Linked DNA regions of Homo sapiens. The protein of the gene in region 1 purifies or fractionates together with the protein of each later gene. This does not show direct contact. Each region holds a gene or a part of one and is shown in the gene's direction. Other genes may lie near its edges.

Region 1 (3,746 bases):
AAATTAGTATGAATTGTCAGAGTCACAAAGACACCAACAGATACATACACATAAATATTCTTACCATCTCCCAAGGAACAGATCCAAGCATCTGTGCTCTCTGGAACTCAGTTTATTTCAAAATACAAAGTTATGCATAGTTAGATGCTATACCACTTGAGATTAGGGGTTCTACCAACTCATTCTGGTAACCTAAACAAGGATCTTTTTAACTCAGTCTCTCTCTCTGTGTGTGTGTGTGTGTGTGTGTGTGTGTGTATGACTCCAGCCTGCACTTGGGGTTTTAACTCATCTTTAGAGAAACATTAATTATAATTTAATGCAAATGAAGAAGCAGAAGACATAATAGCAAAACAAAGAAAAATAGGCCGGGCACAGTAGCTATTATTACAGGTGCACGCCTGTAATCCCAGCACTTTGGGAGGCCGAGGCGGGCGGATCACGAGGTCAGGAGTCCGAGACCAGCCTGGTCAACATAAACCCCAGCTCTACTAAAAGTACAAAAATTAGCTGGGTGTGGTCGCTCTGTCACCCAGGCTGGAGTGCAGTGCTGCGATCTCGGCTCACTGCAACCTCTGCCTCCCGGGTTCAAGTAATTCTCCTGCCTCAGCCTTCCACGTAGCTAGGAATACTAGCGTGCGCCACCATGCCTGGCTAATTTTTGTATTTTTAGTAAAGACAGGGTTTCACCACGTTGGCCAGATCTCTTGATCTCATGATCTGCCCAACTCGGCCTCCCAAAGTGCTGGGATTACAGGCATGAGCCACCCCGCCCAGCCAAAAAAAAAATATTTTTTAAAAATAGCACTTTATTATTATTATTATTAGAGATAGGGTCTTGCTATGTTGCCCAGGTTGGATTCAAACTCCTGGGCTCAAACCATTCTCTCCCTGTCTCCAGAGTAGGGGGATGTACAGGGCATGTCACTGTGCCCTGTGGTCACTCTGATTTGATTCTCAGCCCTCCCTAGTTAGGAAGTGAGAGGGCTCTTTCCGTAAGCTCTTACTTAGATCGTAGTCTCTCTCTCTCTCTCTTTTTTTTTTTTTTTTAGACGGAGTCTCACTTGTTCTGTGCCCAGGCTGGAGTTCAGTGGCATGATCTCAGTTCACTGCAACCTCCGCCTCCCGAGTTCAAGCAGTCCTCCCACCTCAGCCTCCCAATTAGCTGGGATTACAAGTATGTGCCATCATGCCCAGCTAATTTTTGTATTTTTAGTAAAGACAGGGTTTCACCATGTTATCCAAGCTGGTCTCGAACTACTGACCTCAAGTAACCTGCCTGCCTCAGCCTCCCAAAGTTCTGGGATTACAGGTGTGAGCCACCGTGCCCAGCCCCTAGTCTCTTAAAAACTTTTTTTGGGGGAGCCTTGTGGAACTGTCACACCTCTTCTTTTAGTACTGACATACTGCGTGTGAAAAAGCTTGCTCTGTCTGTCTGCCTGTCTCTCTCTCTCTCTCTCTCTTCCCAGCTTGTTCAGGATCTCTGTACACAGAAGGCTGCAGATGTAGCCTTAAACTCATCAACAGGGAAAATCTCGATGAGTCTAATAAGCAGCAGCTTCCAATGAGTCACAAGGTTCCCACCCACTGGAGTCCCTCCCCGTGTGCCACCAACCAGCACTTTTGTCATGCTGGGAAAACCTCCCACCCAGGCCTTTGCCCTGAGTCCAGGGTCTGTGCCCTAACCCCACAGTCACTGAGAGCAACTGGAGGCCACATAAAACAGACATCTCTTGTTTTCCAGATACTACGGGTCATAATCCCTAACTCCAATCACTGGCAACTCCTGAGATCAGAGGAAAACCAGCAACAGCGTGGGAGTTTGGGGAGAGGCATTCCATACCAGATTCTGTGGCCTGCAGGTGACATGCTGCCTAAGAGAAGCAGGTAGGAAATCTGTTGGGGACCAAAGACTAAATGTAATAAAATACAGATAATGCTGGGGGCTAGGCATAGTGGCTCACGTGTGTCATTCCAGCACTTTGGGAGGCCAAGGTGGGGGGATCGCTTGAGCCCAGGAGTTCAAGACCAACCTGGGTTACATAACAGACCCCATCTCTACAAAAAAGAAAGAAAAGAGGCCAGGCGCGGGAGCTCATGCCTGTAATCCCAGCACTTTGGGAAGCCAAGGTGGGAGGATTGATCACTTGAAGTCAGGAATTTGTTTTTTTGTTTTTTTGTTTTTTGTTTTGTTTTTTTGGGTTTTTTTTGAGATGGAGTCTCGCTCTGTCGCCCAAGCTGGAGTGCAGTGGCGCAATCTCGGCTCGCTGCAACCTCTGCCTCCCAGGTTGAAGCGATTCTCCTGCCTCAGCCTCCCAAATAGCTGGGACTACAGGCACATGCCACGATGCCCAGCTAATTTTTGTATTTTTAGTAGAGACGGGGTTTCACCATGATGGCCAGGATGGTCTCGATCTCATGACCTGGTGATCCGCCCACCTCGGCCTCCCAAAGTGCTGGAATTACAGGCATGAGACACTGCACCAGGCCTAAGTCAGGAATTTGAAACCAGCCTGGCCAATATGGTGAAACCCCATCTCTACTAAAAATAAAAAATTAGCTGGGCATGGTGGCGGGCACCTTAATCCCAGCTACTCAGGAGGCGGAGGCATGAGAATCACTTGAATCTGGGAGGCGGAGGTTGTAGCGAGCCAAGATTGCACCACTGCCCTCCAGCCTGGGTGACAGAGCAAGACTCAATTTCAGGGAAAAAAAAAAAAAGGAAAGAAAGGAATAAGAGAGGGAGGGAGGAAGGAAGGAAGGAAAAGAAAAAAATATCCTGGTGTGGTGGTGTGTACCTATAGTTCCAGCTACTCAGGAGGTTGAGGCAGGAGGATCCCTTGAGCCCAGGAGTGTGAGGTTACATTGAACTATGATGCACTCCAGCCTAGGCAACACTAGGCAACAGAGTAAGACTCTATCTCAAAAAACAGAACAAACAAATAAACAAAAAAAAATAAACAAAAAAACCAACCTGGGCAACATGGCAAAACCCCATCTCTACAAAAAAAATAAATAAATAAATAAACAAAAATTAGCTGGACATGGTGGTCTGGACCTGTAGTCCCTGCTACTCAGGAGGCTGAAGTGGAGGATTGCTTGAGCCCAGGAGGCAGAGGTTGCAATGAGCAGAGATCTAGCCTAGGTGACAGAGCAAGAACTTGTGTCAGAAAAAAAAGAAAAAGAAAAAGAAAAAGAAAACCACAAAAGATAACGCCAGGGATCAAGTCAAGGGCATGTTTGGTTTGGTTTGGAAAGAGACTCTCTAGAAGGGACAGAAAAGGGTCAAGGGTGGCCCAAAACTGACTGCTGACCCCTCCTACATTCAGGAGTCTGTGACAGCCACCCCAACACGTGACGTCATGGCCAGTAGGGAAGATGAGCTGAGGAACTGTGTGGTATGTGGGGACCAAGCCACAGGCTACCACTTTAATGCGCTGACTTGTGAGGGCTGCAAGGGTTTCTTCAGGTGAGAGTCTCCTCCCCAATGGAAATAGCCCTCCAAACCAAACTCCCTATTAGTCAGCCTTTACACCCTCGCTGGTGCCCAAGCCTGTCCAGCTACATTACTCCTTTATCTTAGAGTCTAACTACCCTGTGGCTGGCATCCTACATCTTGCCAAACACATCACTGTATAAACTGGTGGCATAACAGAGGGAAAGCTGAATGTTTGTCTGATGGACACAGCCCATTAGTCAAGAGCATTTATTATGTACCCACTGCCTGTGAAGCACCTAGCTAGTAC
Region 2 (3,746 bases), on another chromosome or scaffold:
GAATTAACATGGCAGCATCGTCTAATTTGATAGCTGGAGGAGTCATGTCCACTTTCCCCATCGGCCTGTTAAACCCCTATCATTCATTCTTGACTCATCCTGTGTCTTTGTGAAGCCTTTCTTGGTAAACCTATGCACAAGGAAGACCCTTTATGTCGTCACCAGCCCTTGTGCATGTTTCAATTGTAGTACCTATCATCTTGTACTGCGATTGCCTAATTTATTTTTGTATCTCCAGTTCTACATACAGTACCTGGCAAACAGTAGGCGCTCAATAACTGCGAAATGAACAAGTCCATGTCAAGAGACTAGGCTGGGAGTTTTAATATCAATGCCGACTGAGAAACAAAATACGGAAATGTCAAGGGCTGGTATAAAAATAATCTCTAATAGCACAAAATCCTCCTGAAGGGAACACCTGTCCCACTTTCTCACGTTGCTTTCCAGGTTCTTCCGACACCCCAATTTCCCGCCCACTCTTCTCCCTCCGGGGTACAGGTCAGGCAGGTATCCCAGCTCGGCGGCTCTGATAGGTCGGCGATGATTTCATTGTTAGGGAACATCCGGGCCTTTCCCCTCCCCGCAACACCTCCCCAGAGCCCGGCCTTCCCAGTTTCCCACTCTCGCCTGCGCCCCACCCGCGGCTGAAGCAAAACAACCGCCTCTCCCCTGCCCACTTCTTGTCCTCGTCTGAGTCGTCCCTTCCCGTCTCCACGCCGAAGAGAGGCGTTTAGATCCTCCAATGAGGGCCTAGGAGGACTTTCTTAGCCAATCAGTAGCCAAGCCCCTGCAATTCCGGGTGGGACCAGGCGTCCACACCTATAGCTGGACTGCTCGTTGGTCCCTTATGGCGCTTCTTTTACGCGAGGCTTAGAGGTCAAATACAAGGGGGCACGGTCCTCACAGAACGGAAAGGATCCGTACAGACTCTCCGGGTTTGACCGTTTTCTAGGACGAACCAATCGCTTTCCAGATACTTCCCCGCCTTTTGCGCGTTCATTTGAAAAAAGCCGGTGTGACGGACTTGGAAATTGGCTCAGTGACTGACCCGCAAGAAAGCCAGTGACTGGGGGTTCGGATCACGAGTTGGACCAATAAGAAAAGACAATCGCTGGGGCCGGGGCTTTGCTAGGAGGAGCGCAGGTGGGCGTTATTTGATTGACGGAGGGCTCTACTTATGGCTGGTAGCGGGGGCTGGTCCCTGACGTTCGGGAGGTAGGACCTAGCGGAGGCGGGGCCGAATAAAGTAAATGGTAATAAAGGGTTGGGTCTCACTTAGTGGGCGGTGTTTGATGGACAGCTGACCTTGCCTATTGAAAGTAGCCACTGATGCCCAATGGGAAATTAGAAACCCAGAGGCGGGGCCGGGTGGGCGGGGTAAACGAAGTACGGAGGTGCCGAGGGAGCAGCACGGGGAGGGGGAGCGGTGATTGACAAGACTCCCAGCAAACCGGGGGCCGTGAGAGGGCGCGCGGCATCCCAGTGGGTGGCAGCTGGAGGCGGGGCACCCTGAGGGGCGGGGAAGGACTAGGGTGCGGGGAGGGGGTTGCAAAAGGAGCCGAGCGGCTTCTGCTCAATGGCGGAAAAGCCGCCGGTGCTCTGACGGCCTCGTTCCCCTAGCAGTTGCGGGGGAGTTTCCTGCCGGCGCGGCTGGAGTCTCTGATTCTCAGGGTTCGGTGGTTGGAAGATGCTCCAGAGAGACGAGGCTGCGGCGGAGGAGGTGGCGGCGGCCGAATCGGCAACGGCGCTAGGGTGGAGAGAAGGCGGCATCGGCGGCGGCGGCGGCGTGAGGGGCCGGGCGGTGTAAACAGCCCCGGAGGCGGCGGTCGAGACCCCGAGGGGGAAGCGGCGGCTGAGTCAGGGTCGCGCCTCCGTTGGAAACTTGGGCTGAGTACCGCGGCGGGCGCGAGCGAGGCGCCCTAGACATCTTCTCCCTCCCTTGCCTCAGGTAAGGCCGCCCGGCACCCCGCCGGAGGGGAAGCGGCTGACCGGCCGCGCCGCCGAGGCCCCGGGCCCTGGGCAGGTTTTCGCGGTGCTGCCGAGCCGCGGCCGGGGCCTCTGTCCTTCCGAATCCTCGCTGCTTTCCCTGCTGCCGCGGAGCCTAGGCAGGGGAACGCCGGGCCTGGCTCTCGGGTATAGGCCCCTTCCCCGGCCGCCGCCTCCGCTGGGCTGAGGTCTGGGAGAGGCGCAGGGAGAGAATGGGAGTTTGCTGGAACGCCTGGAAGCTGACTGATTCTCTCTTCCCTCCGCTTCAGTCTGCAAGCATCTCTTTCACACGAAAGCACTGGGGCTACCCCAAGCCTTGGCGCTTCTCTTCCTGGTGCATGCCCTGTTTGAAAACACTATCTTTTACCATTCGTTTCCTCATCAGCTTCTGCCCTACTCTGCGCTCCACTTCACTTCCTTGTTAAATCGTCTTTCTCTGCTGTCTATGCGTTCTACCCTCGCCTTCCCTCCTTAGTGGCTTTAAATTGTGTGTTTCTCTTTTCTTCGTACCCCGGCATCTCTTGCCTGTCTTCCCTAGCACCATCCTTTTCGGATGTCATTCCTAACAGTGAAGTTCTTAATTGAAACTGCCACTTATTGTCAGTACCCCAAATCTACCGGAGCCCCATTAAGAGTATAGACTGACTAGCCATATGTGGTAAATCAGTTTTTCATAGTTTAAGCCTAACAACCTTGAAAAAATTGTATTATTAAACGTAAAGTGTGAAAATAACACCGAAAATAATTTTTTAAATGAAGGACTCAGTGAGTGTTGGAAATAGTTATTTCTTCATTTTTTAAACTTGCATGACCTCTCATATCAGATTTAGCAGATCTGGGACGTTTGCCCATCTTATTCGGCAAAAAAAGTGCTTCTTAGGCGTTTGATAGCAGCCCAAATTCATCAATATTCAATTTCTTCTAAGAACAACTTGAAAACTTTTTTAAAAAGAGACGTTAATAACTGGGAAGTTGTTTTGATAGTCACAGTTAAAGAGCTTTTAAAATAGGCTCCACATGTTTAATGTATCAAAATAAAGTTGGCAGGCATGTTGTAAAAGGATTATTTAGGAATTTGAGTAGTCTTAGTGTTATGTAGCTATTTTAGGAAAAACATTCTTTTTCTGTTAACAAACGTTTACAACTACGGTGATGTGAGAATTACTGAGGCTTACTGTGGGATTAACACAGGAACTGTCTTTATTTGAGCTACTGCATGGATGAAGAAGTGGTAAATTGTTCAGAGTAGACAGTGTAAGTCACAGTATGTTCTAGGAGATGGAGAAACATGCCATGGACGCTGAATGTTAATAGATGTTATTTCATTTACTTTCTCTGTTGTGCAATAGCAAAGTTCCTATTGTTGGCCTACTTTTAAATGGGGCATTTCTAAGTAAATAGTGAGACAAGTTATTCTAATTATTATGATAGTCTTTTCCAAGTGTACAGGCCTTTTAAAAATATAGTTGAAGTAATGGTAATTTTTTAAGGAAATGTTTTTGTAGGTCTGCCAAATGGACAGTGTGTTGTTCTAATCGAAATTTTAAAATTAAGTATTTAGAACAGAATATTTTAGTCCACACATTTTCAGGGATAATCTTTATTTTGTGCTTCTTCTCTCAATGCCTTCTTTGTCTTTTTTTTTGTCTTAATGGTTGTTGTGTTTTCGCCTCTTCATTTGTTTTTGCTCTCATGAAGTCTTACAACAGTTTCTGCAGTGGTTCTTTTTGTTGCTGTATATTAGCACGAGTATTTTTATT

What was found.
Region 2: the proteins of NR1I3 (region 1) and PPM1B purify together in Homo sapiens (affinity purification with mass spectrometry; 3 studies listed by BioGRID and IntAct, with this or other methods). This does not show direct contact.

Annotation. Positions count from the first base shown.
Region 1 is NC_000001.11:161,236,182-161,239,927, reverse strand, and holds the start of NR1I3 (nuclear receptor subfamily 1 group I member 3), read left to right. Parts: upstream 1-1,724; 5' UTR 1,725-1,867; coding exon of another isoform or gene 1,868-1,887; intron 1,888-3,329; 5' UTR 3,330-3,362; coding exon 3,363-3,469; intron 3,470-3,746. UniProt on the Homo sapiens protein: Binds and transactivates the retinoic acid response elements that control expression of the retinoic acid receptor beta 2 and alcohol dehydrogenase 3 genes.
Region 2 is NC_000002.12:44,167,327-44,171,072, forward strand, and holds the start of PPM1B (protein phosphatase 1B), read left to right. Parts: upstream 1-1,548; 5' UTR 1,549-1,948; intron 1,949-3,746.